4 linked regions of the Homo sapiens genome follow. The protein of the gene in region 1 interacts with the protein of each later gene in a biochemical or structural test. Each region holds a gene or a part of one and is shown in the gene's direction. Other genes may lie near its edges. The genes, in order: PRMT1, STAT1, FGF2 and UBAP2L.

Region 1 (7,899 bases):
CAGATGAGAGGAGGAGAGGCGCCGGGCCAGCCAGGACCCTGTGGTCACGGTGAGTGACAACTCGGACTTTGACTCTGGGTAAGCCAAGGTCTCTGAGCAGCGGAGGGACAGGCGCTGATTTAGGCGCTAATGGGCGCCCTCTGGCGGCTGCCTGGGGACAGACTGCTGGGGGCGAGGGCAGAAGTAGGGGCACAGGGAGGAGGTGAGTGGATCTCACCCAAGTCGGGGGCGGTGGAGAATGCTGGATTTAACTTAGCGGTGAAGCTGACAGATTTGGCTAATGGGCCAGATGTGGGGACAGACTAAAGGATGCTGGCCCGAGCAGCTGCAGGGCGACATCTTAAGTTCCCCGAGATGGGGAAGGTGTGGGGATGGGGGCGATGGGGGTGGGGAGCAGGACTGGAGGTGGTCCGGTCTACAGTAAGATCAGAACTCATAGCACATGTTGAGGGGAATGGATATAAGTGTTGGGCTCAGCAAAGAAGCTCGTTTATTTTATTTTATTTTAATTTTTCAGATGGAGTCTCACTCTATTGCCCAGACTGGAGTGCAGTGGCACGACCTTGGCTCACTGCAACCTCCACCTCCTGGGTTCAAGCGATTCCCTGCCTCAGCCTCCTGAGTAGCTGGGGTTACAGGCGCACACCACCATGTCCGGCTAATTTTGTAGTTTTAGCAGAGACGGGGTTTTGCCCTGTTGGCCAGGCTGGTCTCGAACTCTTGGCCTCAAGTGATCCACCCACCTCGGCCTCCCAAAGTGCTGGAATTACAGGCTGAGCTACCACGCCTGGACAATTTCTTAAAAAATTTTTTTAAAGTAGGATTGATAGCAGATGAGTTTTCTCGGTGGGCCAGGTCCTCTGCTAGGGATTTCAATGGAATGATCCCATTTAAACCCACTACAACCTCATGGGGCTCTTATTGTCCTCGTCTTGTGGGGGCAGAGAGGAAAAGTCCCCAGCATGCAGAGTGTTGGAATCTGGATTTGTACACAAAGCCACGACTCTGAATTGTTCAAATCCCAAGACTCTCTTCCCCATCTCTGACTCTGTCCCCCAACTCTTCACTCTCTCTGGATCTCTGTCTAATCCCACTCCAGTGTCCTGACCCTCCTCGAGCTCAACCTTTCCTCCTCCTGCTAGGACCCTGCCCCCTCATCCCTGTGCCCTTCTGTCTGGGTCTCTGTCCCCTTGTCTGGGTGTCTGTCACCCTCCGCTCTCTGGTTCCTCGCCTTCCCGTCTCTAATCTCACAGGGCTGATGTGGACGCTGCTGTATGGGGGGAACACCTGCCCTGCTCACAGGGCTCTGCCACTTTTCCCTTCCAGGAGGGCATCCTGGCTGTTTCACCCGTGGACTTGAACTTGCCATTGGACTGAGCTCTTTCTCAGAAGCTGCTACAAGATGACACCTCATGTCCCTGCCCTCTTCGTGTGCTTTTCCAAGTCTTCCTATTCCACTCAGGGCTGTGGGGTGGTGGTTGCCCTACCTGTTTTTGCCAAAAATAAATTGTTTAAAACTTTTCTTATTAAAAACGTTACAAAGTATTCAATTGTCTGTTCTTACACTTGGGAACTAAAGTTTTAAGGAGAGGAGATTTGGTTCAGAGATTTCTGTGGCTTACGCAAATTGAGGAAAGAACCAGTTCATTCATTCTAGAAATATTTATTTGCAGCACCTACAAGAGCCTGTCTCCTGGACATGTAACATATTTGAGAGAATACCTGTAAATATTCCAGCAACTTGCATTTTTTTTTCCTATTGCACGATCTGGTTATTCTAGCTAATGCTGTATGATGGTCATGGAGTCTTTCCAGTGAATTCCACAGAAAGGTACAGTCTAACTTCACCTGTGTCTAGGACACCACCCTCTTCTTGTTTTTCTCCTCCCATTGCTCCTTTCAAGTCTCTCTTGCTGGTTTCTCATCTACCTACAGACCAGTGGTTTGTCTCACACACACCCCCCACTCTCCCTTTTTTTTTGGAGATAGGGTCTTGCTCTGTTGCCTATACTTGCACTGTTATATAGATACAGTGGCACTATCATGGCTCACTGCAGCCTCAACCTCCTGGGCTCAAGTGATCCTCCCACTTCAGCCTCTCTAGTAGCTGGAACTAAAGGCATGCGACACGACGCCTAGCTAATTTTTAAAAAAGAATTTTTATGGGAGGCCAAGGCAGGTGGATCACTTGAGGTCAGGAGTTCAAGACCAGCCAGGCCAACATGGTGAAACCCCATCTCTACTAAAAATACAAAAATTAGCCGGGCATGGTGGTGGGTGCCTGTAATCCCAGCTACTTGGGTGGCTGAGGCACGAGACTCGCTTGAACCCGGGAGGCAAGAGGTTGCAGTGAGTTGAGATCACGCCACTGCACTCCAGCCTGGGCAACAGAGCGAGACTCCGTCTCAAAAAAAAAAAAATTGTAGAAATGGGGTCTCCCTTATGTTGCCCAGGCTGGTCTCCACCTCCTGGGCTCAAGTGATCCTCCTACCTTGGCATCCCAAAGTCCTGGGATCACAGGCATGAGTCACTGTGCCTGGGCGGTTTGTCTCCTTTATAGGGCCATATCCCCCTTCACAGAGTAATGTTTGTAAATTAATAAGTGAAATGTACAGGATTACAAACCGAACCAATTACAGTTGATCCTCAGTATTTGTAGATTATTTGCAAATTTGCATCCTTGCTACAATGTATTCATACCCCAAAAATTAAGGCAGTGCTTTTGTGGTGTTTTGGAGGGCAATGCTTATGCACAGAGCTGCAACAAGCTAAAGACCTGATGTGCATATTTGCAGCTGGGCTCCTCTTGCTTCAGCTCAAACACTGGAAACAAATGTCCTTTTCTTGGTTTGTTTAGTGCCATGCTTTTCAATTTTTTTTTTTTTTTTTAAAGTTAGAGTCTCGGTCTGTCGCTCGAGCTGGAGTGCAATGGCTTCATCCTGGCTCACTGCAACCTCCACCTCCTGAGCTCAAGCGATTCTCCTGCCTCAGCCTCCCAAGTAGCTGGGATTACAGGCGTGTGCCACCAGTCCTGGCTAATTTTTTTATTTTTATTTTTATTTATTTTATTATTTTTTGAGATGGAGTCTCGCTGTGTCGCCTAGGCTGGAGTGCAGTGGCACCATCTCAGCTCACTGCAACCTCTGCCTCCCGGGTTCACGTGATTCTCCTGCCTCAGCCTCTGGAGCAGCTGGGACTACAGGCGCCCACCACCACACCCGGCTAATTTTTGTTTTTTTAGTAGAGACGGGGGTTTCACCATATTGGCTAGGCTGGTCTCGAACTCCTGAGCTTGTGATCCGCCCACCTCAGCCTTCCAAAATGCTGGGATTACAGGCGTGAGTCACCGCGCCCGGCCAAATTTTTTTTTTTTTTTTTTTTGAGACAAGAGTCTCGCTCTGTCACCCAGGCTGGAGTGCAGTGGCGCGATCTCAGCTCACTGCAAGCTCCGCCTCCCGGGTTCACGCCATCCTCCTGCCTAAGCCTCCACGCCCGGCTAATTTTTTGTATTTTTAGTAGAGACGGGGGTTTCACCATGTTAGCCAGGATGGTCTCGACCTCCTGACCTTGTGATCCGCCCGCCTCGGTCTCCCAAAATGCTGGGATTACAGGCGTGAGCCACCGCGCCCGGCCGCCTGGCGTAATTTTTGTATTTTTAATAGAAATGGGGGTTTCACCATGTTGCCCAGACTGGTCTCGAACTCCTGATGTCAAGTGATCCGCCTGCCTCCGCCTCCTAAAGTGCTGGAATTACACCCGTGAGCCATCGCGCCCGAACCCTATTGTAAATTTTAAGTCTCAGGCGTTTGCCAGCGGCACGCCAGAGAGTATAGCCTGCGCGGAGGCCCAGAAACCAAAGAGCGAGCTCATTCCGGGATTGGAGAGAAGTGTGAGCAGAGGGAAGTAGAGGGATCGGGGAGAGGAGGGGCAGGACCCACGCATTCGGCCCTTTGCATTCAGCTTCATTCAACTAGGAACTTTTTCTGCAAATCAAGGAAAGCTTCCCGGAGGAAGTGGTGCCTAAGCTGTGCTCTGATTCACGTTTAGAAGCTGACCAGACAAAGAGAGGTGGGCGTTCCTGGCAGGGGGAGGGACTTGGCAAAAACCAAGTGGCTTGAGAGGGGTTGATGGTTTTAAAAAACTTGGAATGATTATGTCAAGGGCTAGGGATTTAATGTGTTGACGACGGACTCCTATTCCTCACTTGCTTCGGGACCCCAGCTATGCCCTTCCTCTCTCTGGGCCTCTCACCGATTCCGTTTTTCCCCCAGGTAATGAGCACAAGCTCCCTTTTTCCTCCAGACTCCCCCCGGGTTGGGAGGATCCACCGAGTGGACGAGGAGTGATAATTCCTTTGAGCCAATCGTTGGTGCCTGAAGCCCCGCCTTCTTCCCTACCCGTGGGCCAATTGCCGTGTTCTCCTTGAGGCCGGCCGCTTGGCGAGGGTGGGCCAAAGGCTGCGTGACGTCGCTTCCGGATAAACCAATGGCAGCGATTAGGAGGCGGGTCGTTTTGGTGATGGACAGGTGTTTCAAGACGCCCCTTTAGCGCGGGGCTCCCCGGGAAGCTTTGAGGCGGTGCTGGGTGTAAAGGGGAGGGCATTCCTGGTGGATTTTGCCCAATCACCAGTCGCGCTTCTTGCAATAGACGGGCAGTTTTCCCCATCCCGGGTCGACTTGAGGGGGCGGGATTCTGGACGCCAGAGTTGGCAAACCCCTGACCTATGATGGACGTATTCTCTAGCCAATTACTAGACGGTATTCTCAGACGGGCCGCCTCCATTGCCAATGAAATCTTCCAGCGGGGTCGCGGTAGGCGGGCCGTGGACCCTCTGGTATAAGGCGGTCCCGGGGGAGTGAGGAGAAAGGGGGGGTCTTGGCGGCCGGAGGAGGAGTAGGTGCGGGTGAAGATGGCGGCAGCCGAGGCCGCGAACTGCATCATGGAGGTGAGCGCTTGGAGCGCCGCCGTGGGCGGGAGGCGGCTTTGGGTCGGTGTTTCACGCCTCTGTGGTGGGGAAAGGGCTCTAAGTTGGCGATATGGGGTTGGAGGTCCCCCGCCGCACACGGGGGCGCCGCACGTTCCACATCCGGGGATATCGTTTGAGGTGACGGCTCCCTAGCTTCCAAGGGCCTTCGGCATCCGGCCTAGCGGAGGGTCTTATCCCCCCTCCCACGTGGAGGAGGGCTGGGGGCGCTTCCGGCCAGGCCCCCACGTGGCCGCTGCGCGGTGGGTGGGGAGGGGGTGTGCCGAGTCCAGTGGCCCGGCGGGCTCCACGTGCGGGACAAAGGCCCCGCCCCCGGCCGGGGAGGGGCGCCCAGGGGGGCGGGGAGGGGGTCCGACCCTCCTGACGCCCCCAGCCCTCCTCCCCGGGGACCTGGGCACACGCCGTGGGGTGTGATCGACCTGGGGCCCTCCACGATGTGGGGAGTCTCTTGGGAGGAGCAGTGCTTCTCAGCCCTTTACCAACCTCCTTCCGAGCTCCGGGGGCATCTGTTGGGATATCGGACCCGGTTTTGTGCGTTCTGGGTTAGGGACTGGAGGAAAACCAAGAATGGGGTCCCCCGCCGACCCCGTTTCCCCTCCCAGAATTCTCCCCCTCGCCCAGGGCTTTAGGAGTTGGGGGATGGGGCATGCCCCTGTGACCTCCCTCTGGGTGGTGGTGGGGCATCTAGATAGAGATTTTCCCATTAATAGGCGCCGTGCACCCCCTTGTGGCCATTTCTGGGTGTGTGGGAGGGACATCTTTTTCATGGGGCGTGTCCTGAAGCCCACCTCCCCTCGGATTTCTTCCTGGCGGGCGGAGGGAGGAGGGTATGTCCGCTGGGAAGGAGTTGTGGGAAATATGTAGGCTGAGAGCTTTACCCTACTGGAGCCGTTTATCTCCCCCGGGTCTTTGTGAGGGTGCGAGATGACCTCCTTCTTCCTGAAGCCCTGTGCAGGGTCCTGAGCCCTGGGGTCCTGAGAGTGGGTGCCTGAAATGGTTTCGAGTGAGGTTTGGTTCTCGTGCAGCCATGTGGGGGAGGTTTCAGTCTTGCGTTTCAAGCCCTCTGGGGCTGGGGTTGTCTGGCGGTAGTTTTCAGTGGTATTGAGAAATAGGCCCGAGTGGGAAACCCCCTCAGCACCTTTCTTCTTATAGGCATCCCCGCTAGCTTGGGAGAGCTGGAGGGAGGGTGCTTGGAGCCTAGTAGGTCATGGCCTGTGACGTGGCCCTTCTTGGAGACTTGGATAGTGGTCACATCTGGAAGAGATGTAATCTGATGGGGCCTCTGTCCTTCCACCCCTTACCTATGGCATTGGCTGGAGGGGCAGGTCAGCTCTCAGCTGTCAGGATGCAGCTCCCAGGGGTCACTGTAATGACTTCCCACCCTCTTGGCTGTCTCCTGCACCTGGGGCTCTATGGATGGAGGAAATAACTTTCCCAGAGGTGGCCTCAGGCTTGGCCGCACCTGGAAGTCTTCAGGGCCTGGGATGGGTGTCTGAATGGGGGCGATGGCCTGACTCCCCAAGCCACTTTTTTTTTTTTTTTTTTTGAGACGGAGTCTTACTCTGTCACCCAGGCTGGAGTGCAATGGCTTGATCTCGGCTCATTGCAACCTCCGCCTCCCGGGTTCAAGCGATTCTCCTGCTTCAGCCTCCTGAGTAGCTGGGATTACAGGCACCCGCCACCAGGCCCAGCTAATTTTTGTATTTTTAGTAGAGATAGGGTTTCACCATGTTGGTCAGGCTGGTCTCAAACTCCTGACCTCAGGTGACCCACCTGCCTCGGCCTCCCAAAGTGCCGGGATTGCAGGTGTGAGCCACCGTGCCCCCAAGCCACTTTCTGGAGTCCTCTCATTCTTAGAGGGTCCAGGAGCTGCCCATCTTCCCTGGGACCCTACCTTCGTGGGCAGAGGGTCATAAGGGAGGGGGTTGGTTCCAGCTGGTTTTGTTTGGGGCTCCTGAGTCCAAGGCAGGAGCTGGGGTCTGGGGTACTAGCTCTGGGGAAGTACCCGTGTGCCACACCTCTATTCTGGAATCCTCTCAGACATGAGACTGGTTTGCAGAGGTGGCAGATGCCCTGTGGGCATATCCTGCCAGCCCCGCTCCCTTCTGCTATTCATGGCACCCTAGGATAGGGGTGTGTGTGTCAGGAAGTGTCACCTAATCTGGAGGAGATTAGGTGATGAGAGGGAGCGACAGCTGGCGGTGGTGGGTGCCAATTCCCCTGGCCTGGATGGGGGAGGTGTGTGGTCAGCTGCCTGGCCAGAGAGGGGCAGCGTGGGGGTGGGCCACCATCTCTCCAGCCACAGCTGGGATAGGAGACCCCCCTTTCTTCTCCCCTCACTTTTCCCACCCTTTCTTAAACACCCCACCTCATTACTTGCCCCCTTCGCCACCACTCCCCACCAAGAAGGAGAATTGCTGGAAACCCACCCCCCGGCCAGAGCCCAGGTTCCGCCACCCAGCCCTCCCACAGCCACTCCCAGTAGCTAATCCTTTTTCCCTGTTACTCTCTCCTAGAATTTTGTAGCCACCTTGGCTAATGGGATGAGCCTCCAGCCGCCTCTTGAAGAAGTAAATATCCTTTTGTGAGACCCCTCCCCACCCTGACCTCCACATCAATATATCTTGCCACACATCTGGCCCTTTCTTGAGGTCTAACCATACCCCTCTTGCTTCAAACCAGTTTACCCCAGGCCCCCAGACACTTAGTAGCAACCCCTCCAGGTTCACAGCCCCCGCTGGCCTCCCCCAGTATCGCCGCTACTTCCTTAACTCCACCTCCAACCCCCCTTTGCCCTTCCCTGTGTCTGCCCCCATTTTCCTTCCCCTCCCCTCCCCAGCTGTGGGCTGAGCTAGAGACGGGGTCAGAGAGACTGGAGAGATGGTAGGCGTGGCTGAGGTATCGGGGTGCTCCCC
Region 2 (7,552 bases), on another chromosome or scaffold:
CTGGGGTCTGGAGTAACCAAGTTCCCATCCAAACAAGGTCTCTAGAGGTACAGTAGTGAAACGAGAAAGTAAGAGTCAATGACAGCCGAAGTCCCTTCCAACTTCAGTGTTTGAAATTCCCGTGGTTTCAGTACTCCTGGTTTCTTAGAAAGTTAAAAAGTTAAGGACTCACTGTGAAAGTGGTATCAGTACTAAAGTGTACAGGAGCAGCCAAGCATCTGCTTAGCAGATGGGGGCAGGGTGGAGGGAAGCAGGGAGGGATGAGTGGAAGGGGTAAGAGAGCACCAAGGGTTTGAGTGACTTGGAGGGACTACTGCCCAAGTTGGAAGCAGGAGATTTCTTAGGCCCTGCCACAGTCACCAGGTTTTTCCACCAAGCATCTCCCAGCAAGTCAGTAGAAAGGGGATGTAGAAGCTGGGGATGTAGCTGCTGTTTTACAGCCATTGTTTATATCCCTGTTCTCTAAACCGAGCCTTGGTCATTTGGGAGGAGGCCTGGGAAGTCAGAATTCTCCAGTGGCCTGGTCCCTCTCTCTAGGTGTAGTGTCCCAGCTGTTACAAAGCCCACAGGACACCGTGCCCACATCCTGCTGGCTTAGAAGTTGTATTAGTCTGTTCTTGCATGGCTATAAAGAAATACCTGAGACTGGGTAATTTATAAGAAAAGAGGTTTAATTGACTTATGGTTCTGCAGGCTGTTACAGGAAGCATGGTGCTGGCATCTGCTCAGTTTCTGGGGAGGCCTCAGGAAACTTACAGTCATAGCAGCAGGTGAAGGGGAAGCACACATATCACATGGCCAGAGCAGGAGGAAGCAGGGGAGAGGTGCTCCACACTTAACCAGATCTTGTGAGAACTCGTGATCACAAGGATAGTACCAAGAGGATGGTGCTAAACTATTCATGAGAAACTGTCCCCGTGATCCAGTCACCTTCCACCAGGCCCCACCTCCAACAATGGGGATTACAATTCATGAGATTTGGGTGGGGACACAGATCCAAACCATGTCAGAATTAGACAACAGCAAAGATTTCCCTGCACAGGCAGAAAGCTGTATGGAACTCCTCAAAGTGACAACTTATTCCAACCGCCCAGAGAAACCCCTTTTGTCACTGAGTGATATGTGGCACCTTGGACTTACAGAGGATACCAGTAACATTCATGTATTTCTAATACACACTTTACAGCTGATACAATTCACATGCTTTGAACTTCTGCTGTTGGAGAATATGTAACATGAAGGAAAACTTCCTATGAAGAGAGAATAACTTTGATGACGTATGCCTGATAAAGATAAAACAAAAAATTATGGACCAATTTTACTTATGAGTATCAATATAAAAGTCCTCAATAAGATATTAGGGATCAGAATTAAATACTACATTAAGAAAGGACATGACCAAATATGATTTATTATAGGTTACAAGGGTAGTCCATGACTGGGCAACCTATTAATGCAATTCACTAAATTAATAGCTACAAGGAGAAAAAAGCATTTACTTCCTTCCACAGAAGCTGAAAAGATCTAACAGAATTCAATACTCATTCCTCATAAAAACATTGAATAAGATAGGAATTGATGGGTACCTCTTTAACACAAAAAAATATATATATCTCCATTCTAGAGACAGTATCTTACCTAACTGGGAAAACTCCAGTAAGTCAGAAACACAGCAAGGATGCTGTGTTTCCACTGCTATTTAGCATCGTATTGGTGGTATTGGCCAATGCAATTAGACAAGAGAAAACCATTAGAAGCATAAGAATTAAAAACAACATCATAAAGATGTTAGCTCTCCCTGAGTTAACTTGTAATTTTAATGTTATTCCAATAAAAATACCAACAAGTTGTTTTCTGGAGCTACACAAATTTGTTCTGAAATTTATGAAAAATAAACATGCAAGAGTAGCGAGGCAACTTCTGAACAAGTAGAGCAATGAAATGGGACTGGCCCTACTAGACAGACTATAAATCCTCTATAGTCAAACATCCTTCAAGGGTTCAGGCTTATGAATAAAAAGGCCAATGGGAAAGAAGAGAAAAATCTAGAAGGAAACCCGTGTGCATATGGAAATTCATGTGATAAAGTTGGCAGCTCAGAGCACTGGGGAAAATAATGGACTTTTCAGTAAATGCTGTTAAGACAAATGGAAAGCTAACTGGAAAAAAAGTGAAAGCAAAAAGTGGACCCATACTTCACTCTGATCATGAGAATAAACAAATATATCAGCGATCTAAAAGTTAAAAAGAAAAAAAGGAAACCTTGCAAGTGCTAGGGAAATGAGTGAATGATGTAATGTCAATAGGGAAAGGCTTTCTAATATAAGGAAAATTCCAGACATGAAGAAAAGATGATACAATTGCACATATAAAAACACCCCCGTAGAATCTGTGCTGTATAGGGCACTGTGTAAGAAAGGTTGACAAGCACAGTTTTTGCTGTGTGGGGGATTTAACTCTAAAAAAATAACATCTTTCTAGAATTTAATCTCTATGAGAACAGGGATCACTGGTTACCACTCTAACACCCGAGCCTAGAGCATTGCCTGACATTTACTTAGTACCTAGTATGTGCAGGGTACATCTGGTGTATGAAGCAAGTAGAGACCCTGTCACTTCTGAGTGTTCTGATTATCAAAAATAGGACTGAATACTCCCAGGCAAGTCTGGGTTTATATTCATTATTGACTTTATAGTAGCAGATTTTCATTGATGGCCTTAATGGAGTGATTTCATATTTCAGTATACCTCTGGATCACCCGGAATTGTGTTAAAATAGGGTTTTCTGATTGCCTAATCATATTAGCCCTTGAGATTTTCCAACAAGATCCTAGGTGGTGAGATGCTGCTGGTCTGAGGACCACACTTTGAATCAGAAAGCTTTAAGATAAATAAGGACTGAGTTAATGAGAGTAATCTTGTGTATAGTATCTGAGAAACCGTGAACTAAATTCCAGCGTGGTACCATGCAACTGTATGAATTAATGGAAACTCCCAGAAATACTGTTTATTTTAGACATGAATTGAGCCTAGTTTTTTTGTAACCTTGTTAACAGTTTGCCAGCATTTTCCAGGGCCTTGGGAAAAATTTCATATTGACACATAAGCAGGAAGCCTGTAGTACATGTCAGAAGATCTGGAAGGCAAGTGGGGACTTGACTTTGGAGTGTAACCAGCAAGTACACACCCTGAAGAAAACGATGGCTATAATCATGCCCTTCCCATTACAGGCTCAGTCGGGGAATATTCAGAGCACAGTGATGTTAGACAAACAGAAAGAGCTTGACAGTAAAGTCAGAAATGTGAAGGACAAGGTTATGGTGAGTATTGAGTAAACACATGCATTTATTCTGAAACTTTCTGTAGGGGAAAAAAGGTTTCAATTGCTTGGGGTGTAAACCTCGTAACTGAGTTCAGTCTTTTAAGTAGTTGGGAAGAAAAATTTTGCAGAAGTCTCAAGCTATAAGTAAACAAATTGGCAAAATCAATGACCAGATAGACTTTTTGAATGGCCTCTTATAACTGCCAAACATTGAGTTTAGCTTTTTCTTCCCTGAAAGATCATGCAGTAAATGTTGACTTTGCCCAGTACCCAGTAAATGAGATGTTGCTGCTCTAAATGGGCCTTTATGTCCACACCTCTCAAATCACAGTGCCCCAGGATAAACATGGCCCATCCTTCCCAGTCATCTGTTTTATCCTAAGACTTGGAAGAGGAACAAAAATACATTTTATTGAAAGAAATTTGGATACATTTCTGATTAAGACATCCACAGCAATTTTAGGATACAACTTCCAAGTCAATTTATGGAAGCAGAGGGCTGCTCTGGCGTCCTCGATGGTGCGCATTTACTCCTCTCCACTGTTAGGGCTGGTGTGGGGAGGGTTTGAGGAGTTCTTTTTCACAGAGGCCTGTGTTTGTGGAAAAGGCCTTCCAGCTTAGGGGTTTGGTCCTCTGTGGATCTCTGGGTAATAGCAGTATGGCCTTGACTTACATGCTTCAGACAGCATCTTTCCAAACTCCACATTCTTTGGAGCAACTTCATCTTGCGGTCTCCTAGGGAAACATTTCATTAAAGTAGAAACCGAGTGAGCCCAGTCCAGAAATAGCCATGGAAATCCAGAGAAGAATATGTGGAAATGTGACCAAATCCCAAACAAATGAGGCTTATTTGTAGAATGAACATACAATTTATTGTCCAGATGGAGATGCATTTGAGCCGCCAAGAGGGCACTGTTTATAATTACAGCAAGTATGAAACCAGGTCTATCCCGGTAAAGCAGGGATGTATGGTCACTTTTCTTACTTGGAAGGAATGAGGAAATTTTCTGTGAGCTTTTTCCCCGCCTGCTGTGGGCTTCACAGTGGAGTTCTTAAATCATATCTCAGAGGTAGTCTCAAAAATGATGAGGAAGAATCAAAATTTAGGCGCTGGAACCAGGTTAAGGACATACAAATCAGTTTGAGAATTATTGTACGTTTGCTTTTTTAAAAATGTTATGACATACTTATTAATGAAACCGAAATTATTTCATGTATATGATTAGAACTGTCCAAGTCAGATCTCTTTTTGGGGGAGATGGAATTGTTTTCGTGTTTCTCTGGGTTCCATAGAAGCAATACTCTGTTGCCTAAAGTCTTTGGAAGTTGCTGATCAGTAGAAAACATGTTTACATCTTTGTTTGTAGTGTATAGAGCATGAAATCAAGAGCCTGGAAGATTTACAAGATGAATATGACTTCAAATGCAAAACCTTGCAGAACAGAGGTAAGGGTTCACAACTGAAGTGGTGCCCGTTGGCTGCAATTTTTTCTGTTCACACTAGATAACGAAGATGATTACTCCTTTCTATTTGCCGAGTATTTTATGACTCTGAATTCTTCCTTGATAACCCAGGCCAGGGCTTCTCAACATCCAATATTATTGACATTTCGGGCTAATTTGTTGTTGGGGCTGTCCTGGCATTGTAGCGTGTTTAACAGCATCCCCGACTTTTACCCACCAGATGCCAGTAGCACTACCCAGGAGCCCTCACTAGTGACAACCAAAACTGTCTCCAGAGATTGCCAAAAGTCCCCTAGGGGTCAGTGACCCCTACTTGATAACCACTGGTTATGTGTTACTCACCATATTTATTGCGCCTAGCCCACTGACTGACACAGAGCGATAGATATGTGGAGTTCCCCTGCCCTAATATCTCAGGTTTCTTCAAACGTTGCAGGGCCACGTGTATACACAGCAGATAAGCTCAGTATTTTTCTCATGTTTTAAAGCAGTTTTACTGTATTTTCTTACTGTTGCGTGTTTTTAATGAGAGTAGCAACAGAAAAGATCTCAAGAATGTACATTGTGTAGGACACGTAGGGTACTGCTGTTACTCTATTCATCATCTGGGGTATACCATGGTTCATAGGCAGAGATTATCAGTATGATTTGGGTAGAAAGTATAAGAGACAGCAACTTCAACTACCACTTCCTACTCATCTACTTCTCTTTGAAAGCTACAGCTATGCTTTGTATACATTTTTTATCTGAATTCTGTTCAGATAAAACATTTTATTATTTACATTTATTTTTATAATAATAATAACATTATTATTAATGTTATTTACATTTATTTAGGTAATTACCTGACAGTGTCTTAAGTGGCAGATACTACTATGTCTGATTTACATGGGTCACTGAAAACAAGTTTTTTTTGTTTTTTTTTTGTTTTTTTTGTTTTTTTTTGGAGACGGAGTCTCGCTCTGTCGCCCAGGCTAGAGTGCAGTGGCGAGATCTCGGCTCACTCCAAGCTCCGCCTCCCGGGTTCATGCTGTTCTCCTGCCTCAGCCTCCCGAGTAGCTGGGACTACAGGCGTCTGCCACTGCGCCCGGCTAATTTTTGAAAACAAGTATTTTGTTTCAGTGTGTCTAGTTGTTATACTTAGGACTTTTTTTCATGTTCATTAAAGATCGAAGAAAGCCAAACTTTGACCTGTCACTAGGCAGCATTTGTGTCATATTTATCCTAAATTTATATGAATCTTGGCTTTTGTTGGTTTTGTCTTCTTTATATATTTACTGGCTGTCTCTCAATTTATAGAACACGAGACCAATGGTGTGGCAAAGAGTGATCAGAAACAAGAACAGCTGTTACTCAAGAAGATGTATTTAATGCTTGACAATAAGAGAAAGGTAGTTATTTACTTTCCAGAATAGCATGCCACTTTTGTTATACACTGTAAATAATGGACTCAAAGTTTAGAAGAGAGGAAAAATTATAGCCACCTGGCTTAGAGCCCCAGTTGAGAATGAAATGATATTTGCTTTTCTTTTAAAAAATATTTTAAAATTCAGTGATTAAAAATGAATTTATTTCACTTTGTTTCTTCTATTGCCTTTAGGAAGTAGTTCACAAAATAATAGAGTTGCTGAATGTCACTGAACTTACCCAGAATGCCCTGATTAATGATGAACTAGTGGAGTGGAAGCGGAGACAGCAGAGCGCCTGTATTGGGGGGCCGCCCAATGCTTGCTTGGATCAGCTGCAGAACTGGTAAGATTCTCCAAAGCAGAAAACTGGCAGCTGACTGGCTAACCACATAAACACATAAATGTACCTTTGAGCTGTGTTAGTTGAATGGACCCTGTCAAAACATTAGTATAGAGTTTGACATAGTCCAGCTTCTGCTTACCCTGGAAACACTCCCTTGGAAAGCACAGTGTTATTCATGACTCTCGCCACGTTCAGCCACGTCTGCTTGGTTTGGAGCACTCCTGTACCATGGGGTGTCGTTTGACTGTACAAAACATCAGTGACATGGTCGTTATAGAACACATTTAATGACTTGACTCTTAATGTTTCCTTAAAAACAAGATAGCTTGAGGCATTTTTCTAGGCTTACAGAATAGTTTTTTAGGAAACATTCAGTCATCCATCCAGTAATACTTATTAAATGCCTACTGTGTGCCGGGCACTGTAGGACCTGGGCACACAAGGATGAGTGATTCTTGGCCCTTGCCAACAAGGAGTTCTCAGTGTGGAGGGGGGGATGTAGACATGGTAATAATTCGTGTGGTAAAAGTATCCAGGTGCTCTAGCAAAAGGCCATCAGAATTCTGTGGAGGACAAAGGAAAGCATCTCCAGGGAAGGTTTCATAGAGGAAGTGGCCTTGTGCTGACTCAAAAGTCACTAGGATTACTCCACGTAGATCAAGGGGAAGTGCTTTCCAGCACAGAGCACAGCGTGTGCAAAGGCACACATGTGGGAGACTGCAGGGGCTGTATTGGGTGGCTGGAGAGTGGGGTGTCCAGGGAGATGGGAAGGAAAGTGGACCCGGTGGGAGATGCTGGAGCCTGATGGTGCAGGTTCTCAGCACCATGCTGGGAATGGGGGATGTACGCAGCTGTACTGCTGAGCCAAGGCAGGCTTTTTTCTTAAGCAGGAGATGTATTTCTCTGATCTTTGATTTAGAAAGGGCACTCTGGCCACAGCCTGGAGGATAGGATAGAGACAGAAAGACCAGTTGGAATACTATTAGCATATTAGTGTGGTCCAGGTGAGGGGCA
Region 3 (7,552 bases), on another chromosome or scaffold:
CACAGAGAGTATCTATATACTCCACACTGAGTTTCACTTTTATTAACATCCTACATTAGTTTGGTGCACCTGTCGCAACTAATGAACCCATACTGATATGTTATTATTAGCTAAAGTCCATACTTTATTCATGTTTCCTTAGTTTTTCCTAATATTCTTTTTCTGTTCCAGGATACCATATTTAGTCATCATGTCTCCTTAGTTTCCTCCAGACTGTGACAGTTTCTTAGACTTTCCTTATTTTTGATTACTTTGATAGTTTGAGGAGTACTGTTGAGGTATTTTTTAGAATGTCCTTCAACTTGCTTGATTTTTTTTTTCCTTTTTTTTTTTTTTTTTTTTTTTGAGACAGGTTCTTGCTCTGTCTCCCAGGCTGGAGGGCAGTGGTGTGATCATAGATCACCACAATCTTGAATTCTTGGGCTCAAGCGATCCTCCTACCTTGGCCTCCCAAGTAGGTGGGACTACAGATGCATGCCACCATACTCTACTAATTTGTTTTTATTTTTAGTAGAGATGAGGTCTCACTATATTGCCCAAATTGGTCTCGAACTCCTGGGCTCAAGAATCCTCCTGCCTTGGCCTCCCAAAGTGCTGGGATGACAAGTGTGAGCCATTGCACCTGACCTGATGTTTTTTTCATGGCCAGATAGGGATTTGAGTGTTTGAGAGGAAGACTATAGAAGTAAAGTACCATTTTTGTGGCATATAATGGTATATGTTATCTTCATGACTGATAACTCATGATATAATCCTTGCTTACCTGGCTGAGGTAGTATTTGTGTCCACTGTAAAGTTACTCTTTCACTTCCTTTCCATACTATACTGTTTGGAAGGAAGTCACCATGCATAGTCCACACTTAAGAGATGGAGATGATGGTTATGCTCCACCTCCTTGAGGGGTAGTATCTACATAAATCGTCATTCTTTTGCCTGGGAAATGTGTTCATTTTCCTCCATTTATTTATTTATTCAATCATTTATATCAATATGTATTCACAGATATTTATTTTATACTTTGAGTTACAATCCAATACTACATTATTTATTTTGTTGCTCAAATAGTTCCAGCTTTGGCCATTGGGAGCTCTTTCAGTTGGCTCCTGTGCCCTCCTCTTTGACATACTCTCAACAATGCATTTATTTTAAGTACTTCATTACTTTTTGGCCTACAAGATGCTCCAGGCTCATTTTGTATATTCCCTACTCCACCCTAGAATGAGCCATTTCTCCAAAGAGCATTGGTTTCTTTTATTAGAGAATGGTATTAGAAACCACAAACTGGAATGCTGGGTGTGCTTGTTGCTACTGAAGTATCTTTGCTTCTAAGCCCTCTAAGCTTAAGCTGACAGAGCAAGAAATGGTGGTACATACTAGCCTGGGTATATACATGTATTTATAAATATTTCTATATTTGGCCATCTGTATCAATATTAATATGAGGCAGAGCATGGTGGCTCACATCTGTAATCCCAGCACTTTGGGAGGCTGAGGCGGGTGGACCACGACGTCAGGAGTTCGAGACCAGCCTGACCAACATGGTGAAACCCTGTCTTTACTAAAAATACAAAAATTAGCCAGGTGTGGTGGTGCGCACCTGTAATCCCAGCTACTCAGGAGGCTGAGGCAGGAGAATCACTTCAACCTGGGAGGCAGAGGTTGCAGTGAGCCTAGATCGTGCCACTGCACTCCAGCCTGGGTGACAGAGGGAGACTCTGTCTCAAAACAAAACAAAACAAAACAAAAACATCTAAATATGAGTTCATTCATACTGATATCTCCAACCTTAATCCATCAATAACAAATGAATATTTTAGCAGTCCCCCCCACTTGCTTGTGTGTAACCTGCCACCCCCAACAGTGAGAAACATGGCTCCCGCCATCTCCTGGGATCAGTTTTTCATTATGTAGAAATATCTCACATAACCTTATTTTCTTTTTGAAATTCCAAAGTAAATTAACTATCCAGACAAAAAACAAACTTTTAAAAGTGTTGATTATGCTTTTTCATGCTACATTAGAGTCTGCTCTATTCAAATACTCCCTACAAGGGGTCAAACTGCCAGCACTATCTTTAACATTATTAGCATCATTATCAATATCAATAAATGGTTATTGGGCCCCTCTTATAGAACCATAAACTAAGCTGGTTTATGTGGACAGCCTCCAGGGGAACCTTGAGGTGTTGCCCCATCACTAACACATGACAAATTTATATCACTATCATATGTATACATCTACATTTCTTTTTTAGGTTTATACCTTTTAGACCTGAGAATACTTGTTTACTGGCATTATTGTATATAACACACTTCCTGGTATTCCAAATAAATTAGTACTTTTTAATTTCTAGTTCTGTGGTTATTAGCATTAGCAAAAAAGAAGGAAAAAAGTTAAATGATGTGTCTGTTGCATAGTAGGTGCTCAGTAAATACTGTCTCCATTTGGATGTCTGATATTCCTCTCAAACTCAACACATACAAAACTGAATTATTAACCTTTTCCTATAAAATCTGTTCCTACTCATAGCCCTCCCCACCGCATTTGATGGCAAGTTTATCATTCTAGAACAGAAACTTCAGTGCCATTCTTAATTCCCCTGTTTTTCTCATACCATGCAACCAATCCATCAGGAAACCCTATTAAGTCTACCTTCAAAATATGTACAAAAGCAGACACCTCCTTACCATTTCTACTGCTACCTCCATGATCTGAACCTTCATTCTCTCTGCCTGTATTACTGAATAACCCTTTAACTGGTCTAAGTCTGCTTTTGGCCCTCTGTAGTCTTGGCAGCGAGAATAATCCTACAAAAAGATGTCAGATCATGTTATTTTTCTGCTGAAAAGACTCCAGTGGCTCTCCATTTTCTTAGAATAAGAGCCAAATATTTACAATAGCCTACAAAACTATGAGGTCTGCCCCCTCTCCCATCCCATTACCTCTCTGATCTCATTTCCTGCTACTCTTCCCACATTGGCCTACTTGCTACCCCTCAAATACTCTGGATATGATCCTGTTGTAAGGCTTTTGCACTGGCTTTTCCTCTGATGGGAATGCTCTTCTCTGATAGCTGGATGGTTAACGCCTTCATCTCCTTCAAGCATTTGCTCAAATGTCACTTTCTCAATGGAGCCTACTGTGACCATGCTATTTAATATTGCACCTAGCTTCTACCACTCACCATTCCTAGTCCCTCTTACCCTGTTCAGGTTTACATTTTTCTAAGTTTTCTTATATTCTAACATAGAATATAATTTATTCACTTAAGCTTATTGCTTATTGTGTGTCTCCCCCAGCTAGAATTTGAGTGGCATAAAGGCAGGGATCTTGTTCAGTTTTGTTCATTGATGTGTCTTAGATGCCTAGAAGAAAAAAATATATAGATTGAATGAGTAAGTGTATTATTTAAACTCTATGCTTCCTGTACCTCTAAATTATTCTTCAATTTTAAAAAAGCAACACATAAACAAAAACTTAATTTGATATAAAGGTATCAAGTAGATGTAAGGGCAAAAGGTATCCAAAATCTGAAATGTTACCAAAAGCACTGAGTTTTAAATTCCTCATTTGTTAATGAGTATAATAATGTTAAAATATTGTTGTGACTTTTAAAGTATATGCATAAAAGCAGTCAATAATCATGCATTAAGGGATTTCTCAGCTCTTAGGCCTATATAAAATAAGGCTTTGGAAACAAGGTACAAGTTGTTATAAGCCCTTAGAAGCCACTTTCTTTGTGGTGGCATTCCTCTGAAGACCCCTTTTTATCCGAAGTTTGAAATGGTGAGCAAACACTGATAATAGGAAAACAGTTCTTTAAATATGTTTATAAAGATTAATAAAATTATAATGCACCAGTTTTTAATAGGCACACTGAGATCACAGTCACTGAAGATGACTTGGAAACTCAGAATGGAGACAATTGAAAATTGTACATATGTTGCTCTGTTAGACATCTACTTTTCTTGACCACTAAATTTTGGCCCTACTACTCATTTTTTTAAAAAAATGCAGTTTGTTTTCAAGAGCAAAACAGTTGTTTAGTAAATTTGCATTGCTGAACATTCAGCACAGATGTAAGTTTCCTTCCCTCCACTGTTTTTTTTCAAAAGTAGAAATAACTTTTGTAATAAATAAATAAGTAAATTAATTAATTAATAAGCTGTGGGTTCTATCATGTATCCACTTAGTCCCTGGTACTGTTTCTTTTCTCTGAAATATTAGGAACTGGCTGAAAAGGCAAATGTTATTGGAATAGTTAGTATTCTAGTATGCCAAGCATTGTAGGGAGTGCCAGCTAGCAAGGTGGGGCATCCGGGAAGCTGATAGAACACCAACAAATGAACATATGACTAAATGCTGTTGTTTAAATTTACCTCTGGGGAATCAGTCTATGAAGTTCCATGGTGACCTTTCATGTTGTCTTTATGGTTACTATGAATTTTCCTTTCACTCTTTGTTTCCCTTCTGCTTCTATTCTTGATCATAAACCTGGAATAGAGAAAAGGGAAGATTTTTTTTTCTTTTATCAGTGGCAATGAAGATGACAGAATAAAGTAACAGGTTAACTTCAGTTCACACGAGAGGGGTACTAAATTTCACTAGAGGTAGAGTAAAAGTATTGGATTTGGAATATATTGGTCTATATTACTCTAAGTTTAGGTGTTTCACTCTTATCACATTTGAATCTTTATGAACAGCACAAGACAGTCCTGTGTTTCATATAGCTGGGTCCTGTCAATGTGTGCTTCTCTGTAAGGCTGTGATTTATTTGCATCATGAAGAATTGAGTTTCTTTATGAGTAACGTATTACATAATAGGCAAATTAGTTAAGTTTGTATTTCAGTTTTTAAAAATCCATTTAACAGTGGTCAAAATATTAAAACCAAGTAAATATCCAGTAAAATTCTTATCTCTAGAAGATTACAGGATCTAATACCACACCCTTACTTTAGATGGCTGAGACACATTAGTCACTTTTAGTTCTTTCCCAGGCTTTACTTTACATTTTTGTTATTATGCCAGCTCTTTTCCTTGTTTTGCCAATTAATTTATGTTTTTGTCACAGTTTGTGCCATTGTTTGCCTTATCTTAGAACCAAGGAATCTGGGAAAAGGTTCAAGTCTTTTTAATGTGGGCTTTTCCAAACCTGAAGTTTCCTAGATATGAGTATATAGAAATAAACTGGAATGTGGTATTAATACAAAACCATATATTTATGTCTCTGTATACATCTTATATTTATGTGTTTAGATAAAATTTACATGTGTTTTCTATATAAGTTTATCATTCGATTGATATATATACACATAATTATAATGTAAAAATGATTTTTCCTTTTGAAGTGAATAAATTAATTTTTCCCCTTTGAGGTCAGTAAGTATCTTCAGTGCTACCCTGTGAAGTTGCTTTTTGAACAATTTATCTTTTTTTTTTTTTTGTTTTGTTTTGTTTTGTTTTTTTGAGACGGAGTCTCGCTGTGTCTCCCAGGTTGGAGTGCAGTGGCGCGATCTCGGCTCACTGCAAGCTCCGCCTCCCAGGTTCATGCCATTCTCCTGCCTCAGCCTCCCAAGTAGCTGGGACTACAGGCGCCCGCCAACACGCCCGGCTAATTTTTTGTATTTTTAGTAGAAACGGGGTTTCACCGTGTTAGCCAAGATGGTCTCGATCTCCTGACCTCGTGATCCGCCCGTCTCGGCCTCCCAAAGTGCTAGGATTACAGGCGTGAGCCACCGCGCCCGGCCGAACATTTATCTTAAATAATGTGGTAGCTATTAAATTCCATTACTTGGAGTATTATTTCCAGGTCTTTTTGAAAGCCAGCTATCCTTTTTTTTTTTTTTTTGATAAATAGTTGAATTGAAATTAAAAGGCAAAGTCCCTCCCTCCTGAAAGAGACTGCCAGAAATCAGTATGATACTTACTTATTCCTCATTGTCTAACAGTGTTTGGAGATTGTTAATCATATGTAATATAATGTTCCAATATTATTTTTGGCATTATATACCAATAGCTATTTTCTGTACAATAAACTATTCATTATTATGCCTTAAAAAACATTAGCCACTTAAAACTTTTTGTTAAAATTTGGGGAATTAACTCTTCTTGTGAGTAAAGTATTAACAAACCTCCTTCTGTATGGAAAGATTACAATGGGTTAGCCTTCTACTGCTGCTTCTGATAAAAGTAAAAATGATCCCTGATTGGTAACCTACCTTGGGACTGGGAAGAGTGTGGATGGATCATAAATACTGCTGGGAGCTATAGCTTTGGGCTTCCCATAGCATATTTCTTCTTACTGGGTATGTCCCTCCTTGTGTTTAACACCTGACCTGTCTGTTTTGGAGCTGGAGAATTGTCTCTGAACTCCTACTGAAGAGACATACTTGATGCTGTCCTGCTGACATGCTGTGTTCCTGGCCTGCATCCTTCTTCAGAACTAGTCTGTGTCACATTTTGGCCCATTGAATCTTGTTAGTTTGATTGCCCTGCTGAACCCAACATCACTGCTGCTGGTTGAGCAGAATAGGCATTATACTATCATAAATATTTAATATGAAAAGTGTAATAATAATAATGATAATAATAACAGGTAATTCTTCCTTTATTTTTCAGAAATGTGTTACGGATGAGTGTTTCTTTTTTGAACGATTGGAATCTAATAACTACAATACTTACCGGTCAAGGAAATACACCAGTTGGTATGTGGCACTGAAACGAACTGGGCAGTATAAACTTGGATCCAAAACAGGACCTGGGCAGAAAGCTATACTTTTTCTTCCAATGTCTGCTAAGAGCTGATTTTAATGGCCACATCTAATCTCATTTCACATGAAAGAAGAAGTATATTTTAGAAATTTGTTAATGAGAGTAAAAGAAAATAAATGTGTATAGCTCAGTTTGGATAATTGGTCAAACAATTTTTTATCCAGTAGTAAAATATGTAACCATTGTCCCAGTAAAGAAAAATAACAAAAGTTGTAAAATGTATATTCTCCCTTTTATATTGCATCTGCTGTTACCCAGTGAAGCTTACCTAGAGCAATGATCTTTTTCACGCATTTGCTTTATTCGAAAAGAGGCTTTTAAAATGTGCATGTTTAGAAACAAAATTTCTTCATGGAAATCATATACATTAGAAAATCACAGTCAGATGTTTAATCAATCCAAAATGTCCACTATTTCTTATGTCATTCGTTAGTCTACATGTTTCTAAACATATAAATGTGAATTTAATCAATTCCTTTCATAGTTTTATAATTCTCTGGCAGTTCCTTATGATAGAGTTTATAAAACAGTCCTGTGTAAACTGCTGGAAGTTCTTCCACAGTCAGGTCAATTTTGTCAAACCCTTCTCTGTACCCATACAGCAGCAGCCTAGCAACTCTGCTGGTGATGGGAGTTGTATTTTCAGTCTTCGCCAGGTCATTGAGATCCATCCACTCACATCTTAAGCATTCTTCCTGGCAAAAATTTATGGTGAATGAATATGGCTTTAGGCGGCAGATGATATACATATCTGACTTCCCAAAAGCTCCAGGATTTGTG
Region 4 (7,575 bases), on another chromosome or scaffold:
TTGCCTACGCTGGTCTCGAACTCCTGAGCTGACGTGATCAGCCTGCCTCGGCCTCCCAAAGTGCTAGGATTACAGGTGTAAACCACCTCGCCTGGCCTTAAATTTTTTTTTTTTTTGATACAGAGACTCACTCTGTCACCCAGGCTGGAGTGCAATGGTGTGATCTCTGCTCACTGCAACCTCCGCCGGGGCTCAAGTGATTCTCCTGCCTCAGCCTCCTGAGTAGCTGGGATTACAGGCACACACCGCCACGCCCAGCTAATTTTTTTGCATTTTTAGTACAGTCGGGGTTTCACCGTGTTGGCCAGGCTGGTCTTGAACTCCTGACCTCAGGTGATCCACCTGCCTCAGCCTCCCAAAGTGCTGGGATTACAGGCGTTAGCCACCGCACCCAGCAAAATTTTTCAAATATACTTTATTGAGGTTGAATTTACATACAATAAATGCATTCATTTTATGTATATAAATTGATGAGTTTGACAAATGAACATACCCCCTTCACCACCACGTCAATCAAAGTAAAGAATATTTTCATCACCTGGAAATCTCCCCTCTCCCAGCCCAGGCAACATGATGTACTCTTTTACAGTTCTGCCTGTTCTAGAATTTCATATAAATGGGGTGGAAGCACATGGTACATATTCTCTTGTGAACGGCATTTTGGCTTTCTTCACTCAGCATGGTTTTTTTGTTTTTGGTGAGACAGAGTCTCGCTCTGTCACCCAGGCTGGAGTGCAGTGGTTTGATCTCAGCTTACTACAACCTCTGCCACCTGGGTTCAAGGGATTCTCCTACCTCAGCGTCCCGAGTAGTTAGGATTTTTTTCTTGTATTTTTAGTAGAGATTGGGTTTCACCATGTTGGCTGGTCTGGTCTCGAACTCCTGACCTCAAGTGTTATCTGCCCAACTCGGCCTCCCTAAGTGCTGGGATTACCGGCATGAGCTACCATGCCCGGCCCACTCAGCATGTTTTTGAGATTCATGTTTGCAATTTTTTTCATTCAGAAGTATTTTGAGGACTTGTCTTCATATATTTATCTTCAGTTTTTCATTTTTTACACTATTCCAGAATATGAATATACCACTACCTATTTTTTAGAAACAAGGTCTTGCTCTTGCCCATGCTGGAGTGCATCAGTGCAATCATAGCTCACTGCAGTCTGTAACTCCTGGGCTCACATGATCTTCTGGCCTCAGCCTCCCAAAGTGCTAGGACTACAGGTATGAGCCACTGCACTCAGCCTATATAATAATTGAAAAGTGGACATTTGAATTAAGTTTCTTCTTCAAATATTATGAACAATGCCCCTATAAATAATCTTGCACATGTTTCTTGGTACACATGAGCAAAACTTAATTTCTCTATGGTAGGAGAGAAACTGTTGGACCATGGATTAGGTACATGTGCAATCTTACCAGACAATGACCAGTTATTTTCCAAAGTGGTTTTACTAATTTATACTTTCACTAGCAATGGTTGAGAATTTAGAAAAAATTTTTAAGCAAAAGGAATATTGCTCTGAACTAGACCAAGGGACCCCTGAATAGCCAAAGTATTGATTGGTTCATGATGTGCTAGAAACTAACCCTATGTCTTTCTCATGAGGCAGGCAGGACTGTTAAGGTTTCAAGCCAGGACATCCTCCTAGAGCCTTTTCATGTACTATGTCAGCAAAGAACAAAGAGGGGAAGGTTAATAGCACTTGTTAATGAAAGTACAGTGCTCTAGGAGTTGAGGGAGTCATGAGCTCTAGCTCTACAACTAACCTGTTTTTCATTCAGCAACAAATTACAGAGTACCTGCTATGTGTAGGCCCTGGCACTAACCTGTTTTTCATTCAACAAGAAATTACTGAGTACCTACTATGTGTAGGTCCTGGCTTTATAGTCGTGAACAAAACTGGCATGGTGCCTGCATTCTTGAAGCTTACGGTCTAGCGGAAGAGAGAGGCATGTTTTAAACAAATGGACAAACATAAAAATTATGGTAAATGCTATGAAGGAAAAATCAGGGTACCATGTGAAAATAAAGAGAGGGGGAACCTACTTTAAAATAGGTAATAAGCATTCCTTTTTTGGAAGTAACATTTAAGCTAAGATCAAAAGAATGAATGAGCTAGCCAATTGAAGACCATTCCAGATCACAGGAGCAAAAAGGGTGGAAAATTCAGCCAGTGGAGCTGGGTCCCAGTGATCTGGGGAGAGCCACACAAAAGGGGGTTGGTAAGGGAAGCAGGTGTCTTTTACTTAGAAGCGAAAGACTAAAGAAGCAGAATGAGAGTGGCAGTGGGATAGCAATAATTCTGATTCACAAATGTTGGGTTTGAGATGTCTACTACAAATCTAAGTGGAAATGTCAGGTAATCAGTTGGCAATATATGTAAGGAACTCAGGAAAGAGTTCTAGGATAGAGATAAAATTTCATCTGTAGCTAAAGCCAAGGAAAGGAAGACAGTCACCTAAGGAGAAAGTACAGACAAAGATAAAAGACCACTGGGTTATTCACTTCCTATACGTCTTCTGGTAAACTGCCTCCTTTTCTTGGGCTTCTTGGTAACATGAATGGTGGAATTAGATGATTTATGGAGCTCCTCTTAAGTCTAAAATTATGTAAAGGTAACCCTTCTCATTGCTCTTGGGTTAACCTTAATGATCTCAACCCCATCCTAATCAAACAAAAAACACTGGGTAGTTTAAGATGAGCTGGGAAATATTTTACTACAAACAGTTGGGAACTTCGACCCAAGCCCTTCATTCTGCAGATACAAAAACAGAAGTTCCAGGATGAGCCACATGCTTGCCACAGCACTGAGCAGGTAAGCCAAGTTCCAAAGCGCACAGTGCCTGCTCAACTTAGTAAGTACAAGGACAAGTGCACGCAAAGAAACATGAGAATTAAAGTCATCACTAAAGGCAGAGGAAATCTCATTCTTGACCCTAAAAGATCTGGAGAAGTATGTTTAACTTGTGCCCTAAGGACCTACCTTGGGGGCATTGTGTCCCACAGGGACATGAGGTCCCCTTCGAGATTTCATTGCAAAGCGCATGATTTGCCTCTTCACAAAAATAAATAGCAGTACAAACACCTGTCCAAAAAGATGTAAAAATCCTTTAATAAAAAGTCAGTTTTGTTTTGTTTTTTTTTTAAAAAAGCATGCCTTCATTCCAAATCCCCAGATTCCGGCTCTCAGGAATGTTTCAGGGTAAAACTTGGGGCAAAGCAAGGCCGTTATGATGGGGGTGGATCTAAGAAGCCAGCAGCAGGGAGGCGTGGGGTCTGTGCTCTAGCGTTAAAGGGAGGGTTCTAGACTAACGAGGGCGGGTCGGCCCGACTAAGTGACTTAAACTCCCACCTACTCCTGGAATAAGGAGTCAAAGCCCGGATAGGCGCAGGTGAGTGGGTGGAGAATGCAGACGGGGTACAGCTCAAAAGGAGGGTCTCTACTGGGTAAGATGCGACAGCAGGAATGGGGTGGGGTAATCTCCTCACCAGGCTCCCGTAGGCCATCACCAGCACGACATTCACCCCGGAGAGCCAGTTACTGCCGGACGCCATGGCCTCCCTACCTCGCGCAGAATTGTTCGGGTTTACCCCGCTGTCCTGGCTGGTCAGCCCAGGCTCCGCCGAAGCGACGGCGCCTGGGTCCCCTGGAGCTCCCCGGCCATTTCCTTACGGGGGAAGACCAAGCCAGACCCGGCCTGAAAACATGGCGGACAGGCAGGAGAGCTGGGAAAGGAGAACGACGCCTTCCAGCTTCCCCCTGACACGTGACTCAGGCAGGCAATGGCACCCAGGAGCGTCGAGCGCTCAGACGCGGAACTACGACAGTAAGAGGAAGCGGCGGCCATCCGTGCGTCACGTGGTGGAGGCAGGGCCGCCGTGAAGGAGGCGGGGTGGACTCGCGGAGCCGGAAAGAGGTGTCTCGTGGCGAGGCGGCACGCGCACGCTTGCGTGCGCGCCCCTTTTAGCGTCACGCGCTGAGGGACGCAGGAAGGCAAGTGGGCGGGGGAAGGCGCGAGAGCGAGCGCGAGAGGGAAAAGGAGGGAGGGGGTGGGGAAGAGGGAATCTTATATCACGTGACAGGGGCGGCGCGGCCCGGGGTGTCAGTGTGGAGGAGACTGAGGTAAAGTTGGGAGCGCAGCGGCGTTGGCGGCGGCGGCGGCGGCAGCGGCAGCGCGGCGGGGCCGGGTATTGTCCGCGGCCCCTTTAAATCCGCGATCCCCCTTTTACCCTCCCTCTTTTCTCCCCTGCCCCCGCCGTATCCCCTCCCTCGGTAGGCCCCCCCACACCGTGTGTTCCCCCACTGTACACCCCCCCCCGAGTCATGCGAGCCCTGGCGCCCCCCACCTCGAGTCGGCCCCCGGAGGTTTTGTTTATGGTTGGGTTCGCGGCCTAGTGGGCCGCGCCAGAGCCGGGGCCTCGATTTGGGAGCGTGGCCGGGGCGGGGCTTGGAGCAGCCGTAGGAAGGGGGGGCCATGCGGCTAGAGCCTGAGAGGGGAGAGCGAGAAAGAGCGCGAGCGAGCGAGGCCTGGGCCTTGCCTGAGGTAGGGCTCTCTCTTCACCCCGGCCGGTGCCTGCGGAGGAGAGGGCCTCCTCCCTTTCCACCCACTGCGGGCCTCCTCTGATCCGGATCCGGCCTGGTTTGGGGGTGGCGTGGGGGAGGGAGGGCGATGGGGTGGAGCTCCCCCAAACTCCCCCATGTGGCCCTCAGTTTGGTGTGCGAAGGATTAATTTGTTCCGGCTGGGAGGTAGGGAGGAGATTGGCCCCGTGGGCTCTCGATGTGGCGCTGAGGGGGGTGAGCCTCCCATCCTCCACCCGTGGGCTTGCGTCCCCTCTCCGTTTCCAGGCTCTTTGTCAGCTCCTCTTATTACCCTCCCTTCTTTCTCACCAACCCAGTTCTTGGAATATGTTTTTGCTGCTGTCTTTAGCTTCCTGTTTATACTGTAGTTTGGGTACCCCAAACAATTGTGTTATTTGGGAAGCTGGACATGGAGGCCCCCATAGGGTGTATTTACGCTTAAGGGACGTCACTAGAGCACTGGGGTATTTGTTCACTCTTCTCATAATGGTACAGGAATGCCCAGTTTCTTCAAACCCTTAACCTTGTGGACAGCCCTTAAATTGCTTTGCAAACTGATGTCACAAACTGGAGACTGCTCCTTTTCCACCATTCTTGAAATGTAGCCACCTCTGGTGTAGGATGTTGTGGAAAGAAAAACACCACAGTAACAGGCGTTTTTGTTATTATTGTTAACGTTTTTGCCTTTGACTCTCCCTGATTATTAAATGGAGAAATCCTTTTTTTTTGTCTTCTCTCCCATCCTACCTTCCTCCGCCGCATATCCTGTTTTGGGGATACCTGATGTGACTTGCTGGGAGGTGATGGACATTACTAGTAACCAGCGTTTCTAGAGAATTAAAACATTTTGGCTGTGTATCAGTTGATAAAACTGCTTTGAGATCTGTCTCCATTGTACTTAAAGATTAGACTATCCCAATGATTACAGAGAATTAAAACATTTTGGCTGTGTATCAGTTGATAAAACTGCTTTGAGATCTGACACCATTGTCCTTAAAGATTAGACTATCTCAATGATTGTTTCCTTTGTGAATGGGAAATATTGCTGGCACATAAACTAGTGATGAAAGGCCTAAAAATGTCCTGTTTTGTTTTTCATCTTTAAAGCTCCTCCTTGCTATGTCCTAACTGGGAAGTACTCTTACTAACTAGATATCAAGGTGGTGGGGAAGGGGATGCAGGGGCCATTTCAACAAAGCATCTACAGAAATTAGTTGTTCTGTTAGAGGTAGCAAATTTTACCCAACTCAGTCTAGCTTCAGTTTCTGAATTGTTTCTTAAATTAGATTGTAAGCTCCCTGAGGGCAGCTACTAAGTCATACTGCTTTTGTATTTTCCTGAAGTATTGGACACATAGTAGATTCTCAATAAATATTTGTTATTTAGTTTTTTCAGTGAAATTTCTCTGGCTATTTTTTTAAGTAGCTAGTTTTCAAAAAAGAGTCAAGGGCACTCCTGTGTTGAAACCTCTGTTTACTCTCGCACGATTTCCTTGGTCTCCAATACTTCTCACCCTACTTCCTTTAAATCTTTTTATTTTCTAAGAAAGAGCAAGTAAGTAACAAGATTCTTCATCTCCAGTGTGATAGCTGGGAATGGGTCTGCTTGCTACTAATTCTGTGCCCTCAAGTGATCCATTCCAGATCACTTACTTTTGACCTGTTGCTCAGTGTTGTCACTACTAGGTGGTAAAAATTTTCTTAGTCACATTTCGAAGCACTTGTAAGAGGGAAATGTTACTAGCAAGAGTGATTAGGAGAATTTTTTTCTTTCTTGGTTAATTATATCTTTCAAGATGACTTTTTAATATGTTTACATCTGACTGGTACAGTATATGCAATAGTGTATAGCTAGTCATGCAGTTTATACCTGCAATATAACTTATCCTCACAAATAGATATCACATGTGGAGTAGAAAACAGTCAATATTTGTAAGTTACAGTAGTGGGTTGGAAATGACTATGCCATATTAGAAACTTCATCTTAGAGCCAATTTTAAAACAAAATAGTTTTCCTCTCGTCTTTATATATATACGTATATATGTGTATATGTAGTCTTGTTGATTTGGATTCGGGGTACTTGGTTAAACATTTTTTTTTTTTGTAAAGTTGAAACGACTATAATGCTAACCTGGGAAAATGGGCTACTGTGTAGCAAATAATCCTTTCTAGCTTGAAATACTTATGGGCTTTTGTGTGCCAATATGTGTAGGGGGAAGAGGTAATGGGTTAAAAATTACCTGAGAAGCTACCTTAAAAAAATCTTTCTTGATACAAAGACCTATGCAACCTATTGACGCAACTTGGTGAAGAATTTATGCACAGAAAAAGTCAGCTTTCTCTGTGACATCCAAGAAAGTCAGATGAAATTCACTTCCCTAATAGTTAATCCTTGCATATTTCTTTAGAAGTCCTTCCTCCCACTCAAATCCAGTAATATCTCTGGGCAGTCTAGAATTACGTTGTATAAGGTTTCATTAACAAGAAAAATTAAATATAGAGCAGAAAAGTATAAACTTACCCTCTTTGGAAGGGAATAAATGCAGAGTAACCTATTATTTTGAACACTCTATCATATGATTAATGTTTTCTTTTTTACTAAATGCAGCAGCTGAGATTGTATTATAAAACAAAGTATGAACTAAAGGAACTTGAATTCAGTAGAATCCTTCCTTGTTAGAAGTCTTGTAACAAAAACTATATTCTGGTTTGGGGAAGGCCCTGTGTGTTCTGTGTCTCTTTAAAGACTCAACTAAGTCATCTTGCCAGCATTAAGGTCTCAAGTTTAAAATGATTTCTTAGAAGCACTTTCTTCCAAATAAAACTTTGTGCTAGATGCTTTTGGTTTGAGACAAATTTGAGATTCCCTGTATATTAAGGTGAGTGGTGGAGGGTAATTGCCATTTTGGTTTCTTGAAAATGTGGACTAGGAGACCAAGAGAAGCACCTGTAAAAGCAGTGTGTTGGAATTATTTTCCAGAGAACAGAGATTCT

What was found.
Region 2: of the proteins of PRMT1 (region 1) and STAT1, one has a biochemical effect on the other in vitro, tested with the Homo sapiens proteins (one study listed by BioGRID).
Region 3: of the proteins of PRMT1 (region 1) and FGF2, one has a biochemical effect on the other in vitro, tested with the Homo sapiens proteins (one study listed by BioGRID).
Region 4: of the proteins of PRMT1 (region 1) and UBAP2L, one has a biochemical effect on the other in vitro, tested with the Homo sapiens proteins (2 studies listed by BioGRID, with this or other methods).

The regions. Positions count from the first base shown.
Region 1 is NC_000019.10:49,672,372-49,680,270, forward strand, and holds the start of PRMT1 (protein arginine N-methyltransferase 1), read left to right. Parts: upstream 1-4,899; 5' UTR 4,900-4,909; coding exon 4,910-4,945; intron 4,946-7,498; exon of another isoform or gene 7,499-7,500; coding exon 7,501-7,554; exon of another isoform or gene 7,555-7,558; intron 7,559-7,768; exon of another isoform or gene 7,769-7,864; coding exon of another isoform or gene 7,865-7,882; intron 7,883-7,899. Other genes in the region: BCL2L12 (bcl-2-like protein 12), read left to right, coding at 1,327-1,377. UniProt on the Homo sapiens protein: Arginine methyltransferase that methylates (mono and asymmetric dimethylation) the guanidino nitrogens of arginyl residues present in proteins such as ESR1, histone H2, H3 and H4, FMR1, ILF3, HNRNPA1, HNRNPD, NFATC2IP, SUPT5H, TAF15, EWS, HABP4, SERBP1, RBM15, FOXO1, CHTOP, MAP3K5/ASK1, MICU1 and NPRL2.
Region 2 is NC_000002.12:190,996,842-191,004,393, reverse strand, and holds part of STAT1 (signal transducer and activator of transcription 1-alpha/beta), read left to right. Parts: intron 1-3,230; coding exon 3,231-3,320; intron 3,321-4,689; coding exon 4,690-4,768; intron 4,769-6,085; coding exon 6,086-6,177; intron 6,178-6,386; coding exon 6,387-6,538; intron 6,539-7,552. UniProt on the Homo sapiens protein: Signal transducer and transcription activator that mediates cellular responses to interferons (IFNs), cytokine KITLG/SCF and other cytokines and other growth factors.
Region 3 is NC_000004.12:122,885,592-122,893,143, forward strand, and holds part of FGF2 (fibroblast growth factor 2 isoform 18 kDa), read left to right. Parts: intron 1-6,619; coding exon 6,620-6,805; 3' UTR 6,806-7,236; coding exon of another isoform or gene 7,237-7,552. Other genes in the region: NUDT6 (nucleoside diphosphate-linked moiety X motif 6), read right to left, coding at 7,237-7,552. UniProt on the Homo sapiens protein: Acts as a ligand for FGFR1, FGFR2, FGFR3 and FGFR4. Also acts as an integrin ligand which is required for FGF2 signaling. Binds to integrin ITGAV:ITGB3.
Region 4 is NC_000001.11:154,216,852-154,224,426, forward strand, and holds the start of UBAP2L (ubiquitin-associated protein 2-like), read left to right. Parts: upstream 1-4,103; 5' UTR 4,104-4,124; exon of another isoform or gene 4,125-4,189; intron 4,190-4,452; exon of another isoform or gene 4,453-4,545; intron 4,546-7,575. Other genes in the region: LTAP1 (protein C1orf43), read right to left, coding at 2,985-3,086, 3,491-3,556. UniProt on the Homo sapiens protein: Recruits the ubiquitination machinery to RNA polymerase II for polyubiquitination, removal and degradation, when the transcription-coupled nucleotide excision repair (TC-NER) machinery fails to resolve DNA damage.